Homo sapiens: one gene and its partner. The protein of the gene in region 1 purifies or fractionates together with the protein of each later gene. This does not show direct contact. Each region holds a gene or a part of one and is shown on either strand. Other genes may lie near its edges.

Region 1 (3,920 bases):
TGCCTGTAATCTCAGCACTTTGGGAGGCTGAGGCGGGTGGATCATTTAAGGTCAGGAGTTCAAGACCAGCTTGACCAACATGGTTAAACTCCGTCTCTACTAAAAATACAAAAATTAGCCAGGTGTGGTTGTATGTAATTGTAATCCCAGCTACTCAGGAGACTGAGGCAGGAGAATTGCTTGAGCCCGGGAGGCGGAGGTTGCAGTGAATCGAGATCGTACCACTGCACTCCAGCCTGGGCGATGGAGGGAGACTCTGTCTCAAAAAAAAAAAAAAAAAAAAAAAAAAAGTAGTGTCTGTCATATTAGGGATATTTTTCTCAATTTGATTTTTACCTTCAACATCCACTTAATACACATTTATCTGAATCTCCCCCATGTGCCAGGCACTAGTCTAATCATCAAGGATGAAATAGACACAGTCCCTGCCCTTAAGGATCTTACAGTCTAACAGAGGGAAGCTGGCAGATAAACAGTGACTGCAATAAAATTTTCACATCCTCCACCAGAAGTACAAATAGCTATAGCGGATGCACTAAAAGATGTGAGTGACCAATTGGACATGTAGGGGCCAGGAATAGGCTTCAGAGACGATTCTTAACTAAGAATAAAAAGCTTTACTAGAGTGACAAGGGACAAAGTAGGAAAGGCATTCCAAGTAGAGGAACACCTAAAGATAGGGCGAGAGAGCTGGTTAGTGGATTTGGGTTTGGCTTCAATATTTGGGTTTGAGGAGTAAAATGTCAAGAAAATCCAGTGGAAGAAGGGGCTGGAGAGACCTCAGAAGTCACATAATTTAAAAAATTATACATAACTTTTTGAGTAAGCTTTCCCTTTCTGATCTTACATAATGTTTAAGATAAAAAAAAAATCCTTCCTAGCCCCAGAGATTTGATGTTTACCTTCATTTTCTTCTAGTTTCTGTTTACATTTAACTAATCTATCAGGAGTTGACTTTGGCATATAATGGCAAGCTTCATTTGAATCTTATTTTTTCTGTTTTAATGTTTATCTGTGTGGTTCACTAAGCTTCTTTCTGTAACCTTATTTTGCTAATGGGTAAAAACAGGGGGTGTTAAATATCTAATAAAGAGTATTTATGCCCAGGTGGGGACAATGCTAAGAACAACAAAAGAAATTTCACTGGTGTTTTCTATTTTAATACTTAAATACCAAAAGGGAGCTGTGCCAAACATCACGGGTGCAGATATGCAGGCTTTTAGGGTCCTGGCTCTCAGAATACCACTACTACTTTGTATTCATAGACTGAAATTTTTTGAGGAGCCAACCATGTTTCCACAAACAGTAATTTATTCAAACGATAACTGAAGAGGGGAGAGGGAGGATAAATATATCATTGCCTGCTTCATTTGTTTACTACTACCAGAAATTAGGTGGAGTCAGGCTTCCTCCCCTGATGCTGGCTGGAGATTGAGTGGGGTTGGCATCTCTGTGCTGTACAGGCCAGACACTGAGACAGTTGACAACTGAGAGCTGTGATTGGTTAGAAAGGCAAAAGTAACCCGACCAGATTGGCTCTGGACTCCCCCAGATTCCCCTGTTGTTACTTCATAGCATTCTGAAGACCTGTCCACCAATTACAGGGCTCCTTACTGGAAAAACCAACTGCTGGGGAGTGCCAAGAGTCCCTAGCAACACCCTGCAGCGTTTGAAATCTGAGGGGAAAAGACTGTAGTCAGCCCTTAGTGGATGAGAGCGCCTATGCTCCAGAAACAGCAGGCTCCCAGGATGGACACCCCGCCCCCTGAAGAACGCTTAGAGAAGCAAAATGAAAAACTGAACAACCAGGAAGAGGAGACGGAGTTTAAGGAACTGGACGGTCTGAGGGAAGCCTTGGCAAACCTCCGGGGACTGTCAGAGGAGGAGAGGAGCGAGAAGGCTATGCTTCGCTCCCGCATTGAAGAGCAGTCCCAGCTCATCTGCATCCTGAAGCGGAGGTCAGATGAGGCCCTGGAGCGCTGCCAGATCCTAGAGCTGCTCAATGCAGAGCTGGAGGAGAAGATGATGCAGGAGGCTGAGAAGCTCAAGGCCCAGGGTGAGTACAGTCGGAAACTAGAGGAACGCTTTATGACCCTAGCAGCCAACCACGAGTTGATGCTCCGCTTCAAGGATGAATACAAGAGTGAGAACATCAAGCTGAGGGAGGAGAATGAGAAGCTGAGGCTGGAGAATAGCAGCCTCTTCAGCCAGGCTCTGAAGGATGAGGAGGCGAAAGTATTACAGCTCACAGTCCGGTGTGAGGCCCTCACTGGGGAGCTAGAAACGCTGAAGGAGAGGTGTGCTCAGGATGCCTGCCAGGCACAGGCGCGCGAGAAGGAGCTGCTGGAGCTACAGAGCCAGCAGGCCTGCACCCACACCAAGGAGACAGAACAGCTGCGCAGCCAGCTGCAGACCCTCAAGCAGCAGCACCAGCAGGCTGTGGAGCAGATAGCTAAGGCAGAGGAGACACACAGCAGCCTGAGCCAGGAGCTGCAGGCCAGGCTGCAGACCGTCACTAGAGAGAAAGAGGAGTTGCTGCAGCTGTCCATTGAAAGGGGCAAAGTGCTTCAGAACAAACAGGCAGAGATCTGCCAGCTTGAGGAAAAGTTGGAGATAGCAAATGAAGACAGGAAGCATGCGCTGGAGCGGTTTGAGCAAGAGGCAGTGGCTGTGGACAGCAACTTGAGAGTCAGGGAGCTTCAGCGCAAAGTAGATGGGATCCAGAAGGCCTACGATGAACTCAGGCTGCAGTCTGAAGCCTTCAAAAAGCACAGCTTGGATCTTTTAAGCAAGGAGAGAGAACTCAATGGCAAACTCCGCCATCTCTCTCCATAGGGAAGTTTCTGCTTCCTCTGGCCTGCAATTCAGAATTCAAATATTTGCGTCTTAGCATTATGGCAAGAGTAAAGATGATATCCCATTTATTATACTTTCAAGCACAAAAGGCAACTCAAAGAAAAGCTACTTTACTATGATATTGTTGTTATTATTGTAAAGCCATTATTAATTTTCATTTCTACACCTAGAATACACAAGATTTGCCAGATTTCCTTCTGTGCCTTAGAAATCTTAAATTTACTAGTAGTATCTTCTCCTACCCATAAGTTATTAATTCTCAACCTCAGATATCTTCATTTATGTTAGGATTTTAAATTAGCAGCTTCTATGATTTAAGTCAATCTAAGTGCAGTGAGATGTGCCATTGTGAAAAATAATTAGCACAATTACCCACTGTAGATAGTTAGGCTTATAGTCTCCCATAGTTGAGATTGTAAGCAAACATGTATCAGCATAATAGCATGAATGCTTTGCAGAAAAAAAAAAGTGTCTGACTTTATTTTATTTTGCGCTAGCTTGGAAAATGATTGAGATCAAGTTCTTTAACAAAGAAGGTCAATTTTATTCTGTATGAGCAATATGATTCAAATAAGTTATACAAAACAACTTTTATTTTTTCTGCAAGCTTAGATAATATTCCATTTTTTGGTTTTCTCTTTAAAAAGAGGATTTAGATGTGCAATAATGCAAATATCAGTAGCTTAATTTAATATTGCACGATATGCTAATAGACAATTAGACAATTTGGGGTAACAAATCATAGCAGACGTGATCTATAGAGTAACTCAGAAATTGTTTTGTTTCTATTAGCATATTTTTTGTAATTAAGATTTTCCTTTTTTAAAAAAATCTAAGCTGAACGTGTGTATGTATGCTTGCAGCATTTTTGTAGTAATACCTACATTTTGTAAGAATAGTTATAAAAACATGATATATATATATGTAAAGTTCTTAAAAAAGTTCTCAAAGGTAGTTATATTTTCTTATCTTCCTGTAATTAGGTATTGATATATAAACATTATTATGAATACCTCTCAAAATAGATTGTAATGTAATATTTTTCTCACCCATTTTGCTGAAGG
Region 2 (3,571 bases), on another chromosome or scaffold:
TAGCTATGATTTAATCATAGATATGGCACAAAATTTAGATCTTTTAAAAATACATAACAATCAAAACAAAGCTGTCACTGAAAAACAGAAATCTTACCCTTGCTGCTCAGTCACACTAAGCAAAATATCAGTAGCCTAGTAAAGTGACCAGGAAAAGACCTATCCTAATATCAGATCTTTCCCATTTTATCATTATCAGTGAACTATTCACATGGAAGAAGTTTGCAATACTTTATAGATACTGACAAATGTGTTTTCTTCTCTTACATATTATTATTTACATATGAGAAAGCTACTACCTACCTAAGCTTAAATTTAAAAACTTGGAGGCCAACATTAATATCCTAGAGCACTTGATTATTCTCGAATGATTAAAACAGTAAAATATCTCTAAAAATTTTCAATTTTGTACACTGAAATTTATTCACCCACTATGTTATGTGAAATAAGTAGGCTGGTTAGTTAAGCAATTCTTGGCTTTAGTAGTCTGTAGGTTCATTATGTTCTTTGTTCTAGGAGCTTTGCAATTTCTAAACAATAAAGCTTAAGAATATTAAAATTACTATAACAATCATTTTTCTGAAAACTCATCATACCAATTCTCATAGTATTTACAAACTTACGAGGATTCAGAAGGTCCATGTCACTACAAGAAGCGTAGTCTTCACTAACTTCATTAAACTCTATAAATTCATCATTCTGGAATAACACAGTTAAATATTTAGAATGAAATAAAAAGAAAAACCCTCTCATTTTATATTCTTAATGCTGAGCATAAAATATAAAGGTAGCATGATAAATGTTTAAATATTTTTAATTTTTTATTAAAGCAATACATATACTGCATATTCCTACATATAAGAAATGTTTTAAATATGGAAGCAGATAGCAAGCTACTTGACTTCACCTTCTAGGAAGGAAAGACAGACCAGAAATTGAAATCCTGAGTAAAAAAAAACAAATTTCTCAGATTTGATAAGGCAATGGTAAATCTGGTAACTATTCTATGAAATTCACAATATGATTGAAGTAAATGAGTGAAAAAAAGATGGGAAGAGTTACCTATATCTTCTGTATCTTTTCTACCCTATGAAAATAGGTTATTTGTACTATTAAAAGATATAAAATAATTTTAAGCTTTTCATATCTATCATATTCTTACCTCATTTTAAATTCTTCAAGCATTATTAACATCTGTAAAAGCTCAACTGACAAGTTTTTCAGATTATCTTATTCAATGAAGAGAGAAACAACAGCCACAACAACATACAGGCTATATTTAAACAGGACTTCATTCTAACTAGACATTTTCTCATTATTCAAATATTCTCATATTTAGCATTTCCAAAAAAATACACATATAACAATCAAAAAAAAACTTTGTTATATCTGAGATATTTTATAAATGTTAAAGGAGGAAAATACCTTTTTAGACAAAAGCATTTCTGTTTCAAGAAGAGTGACACGACTAAGAAGATTAGTCCAGGTGTTTTCATCTACCATCACTTTTCCTTTCATTTTTTGTTCCAAACAGTCTAACCTTTTCTCTATCGAAGTCAGTTTCTTAAGATTTTCTTGGCATTCAGCAAGCATAGTTTGTAGTGCAGTAATCTCAGGATTAACATTTACATCCTAAAAAGGTTAGAGAGATTAAAAATAAAATTAAACAAACTGAAATTTCTTTAAAATTAATGTATTCTCACTTCCACAGCGTTATCTCAACAGTTAGGAGAGACCGTCCTGCTTGAGAGTTAAGAGAGCTATCTCTGGATGGAGACTACTTGGCCACTTAAACCAGTTCTGAGATTTATGATCTTGATGCCTCCATTTCCTCATTAAAAAAAAAGAGATAAGAGCAGTATCTATTTCATATGATTCTTCTGATAATGAGTTAATTTGCATGATTCTCTTAATACCAGCTAGTAAAATAAAACTATTATTAACTAGCTTCTTGAAACAACGCTTAGCACAAAGCTAAGAGGAAATGACCAAAAACAACACTTAGTGCATTGAGATTGTTCGGTTTGCCATATAACAGGAAGTAGGTCCAATGGCCATCTGGTAGTTTTTGTAAGTGCCAACTGTATATTGATATACTGAGATATATAGAAATCACAAGACATAGAAACACAGAAAAAGAAGTCTTAGCAGAAACAGTAGAGATCAGACATATTGGGGTCTGTGGCAATTAAGAGTAATAGAAATGGTTTTTTAAGAGAGACAGAAAATAACAGCAGGGACCCAGAAAGGAAAATGAATAGGCAATAAAGTGCCAATCTTTTCCATTCACCAATAAAGAAAATAGGTGGTAGAGAACCTCCACTATGCAAAGTAGCATATCGCTATGTCTCACTAAATTGTAGATTCCTTAAAGCCAAGTACCATATCTTATTCTACTTTGCATCACCCCAACACTTAGCCCAGCACCCTACACATATGCAGCAAATATTTGTTGAATTATTTTAGTAAGACTTATTGACACTTCAGTAATTGTAACATAGATAAAATGTCATGATTAATAATTCAAAAGGCTAGAAATATTCCAAAGTTTAGAGGCTGAAATAATTACACATATTTAAGTAAAAAATACTGGCATCTATTTAAAAAGTCCAAAGTTGTTACCTGTTGCTCAGCCTTGATTTCAGGAACCTTTACTTCAGGCATCTTTATTTCAGTAGCATTTAAGTCAGACACATCAACTGCTTCATTAACATCTGTTATTGGACTTAATGTATCCTCAGAAATGTCAACATTATCTTCATTATACAAGTGACGAATCACCACAGCTTTCTTCTGCATAGAGAAAAATATGTAAGAAACACTTCAATGTTTTCCTCCCACAATTATTTATTTTTTAACTTTTAAGTTCAGGGGTCCATGTGCAGGTTTGTTACACAAGTAAATGTGTGCCATGGGGGTTTGTTGTGCAGATTATTTCATCACCCAGGTATTAAGCCTAGTACCCATTGGTTATTTTTCCTGAACCTCCTCCTACCCTCCACCCTCTGAAAGGCTCCAATGTGTTTTGTTTCCCTCTATGTGTCCATGTGATCTCATCATTTAGCTCCCACTTACAAGTGAGAACAAGTGGTATTTGGTTTTCTGTTTCTGCATTAATATGCTAAGGATAAGGGCCTCCAGCTCCATCCATGTCTCTGCAAAGGACATGATCCCATTATTTTTTACGGCTACAGAGTATTCCATAGTGTGTATGTACCACATCTTCTTTATCTGCTCTATCATTGATGGGCATTTAGGTTGATTCCATGTCTTTGCTATTGTATTTAGCTTGATTCCATGTCTTTGCTATTGTGAATAGTGCTGCAATGAACATATGCATGCATCTTTACAACAGAACAATTTATATTCCCTTAAGTATATACCAAGTAACGGGACTGCTGGGTCAAATGGTCTTTAGGTCTTTGAGGAATTGCCACACTGTCTTCCACGGTGGTTGAACTAACTTACACTCCCACCAACAGTGTATAAATGTTCCTTTTCTTCCACAAACTCACGAGCATCTGTTATTTTTAGACTTTTTAATAATAGTCATTCTGAGAAGCGTGACATG

Evidence for each region. Proteins that work in one complex are often made in the same cells at the same time.
Region 2: the proteins of CCDC89 (region 1) and CEP44 purify together in Homo sapiens (co-immunoprecipitation; 3 studies listed by BioGRID and IntAct, with this or other methods). This does not show direct contact.

Annotation. Positions count from the first base shown.
Region 1 is NC_000011.10:85,683,921-85,687,840, reverse strand, and holds the start of CCDC89 (coiled-coil domain-containing protein 89), read left to right. Parts: upstream 1-1,645; 5' UTR 1,646-1,710; coding exon 1,711-2,835; 3' UTR 2,836-3,920.
Region 2 is NC_000004.12:174,307,911-174,311,481, reverse strand, and holds part of CEP44 (centrosomal protein of 44 kDa), read right to left. Parts: intron 2,794-3,571; coding exon 2,623-2,793; intron 1,633-2,622; coding exon 1,426-1,632; intron 700-1,425; coding exon 624-699; intron 1-623. UniProt on the Homo sapiens protein: Centriole-enriched microtubule-binding protein involved in centriole biogenesis. In collaboration with CEP295 and POC1B, is required for the centriole-to-centrosome conversion by ensuring the formation of bona fide centriole wall.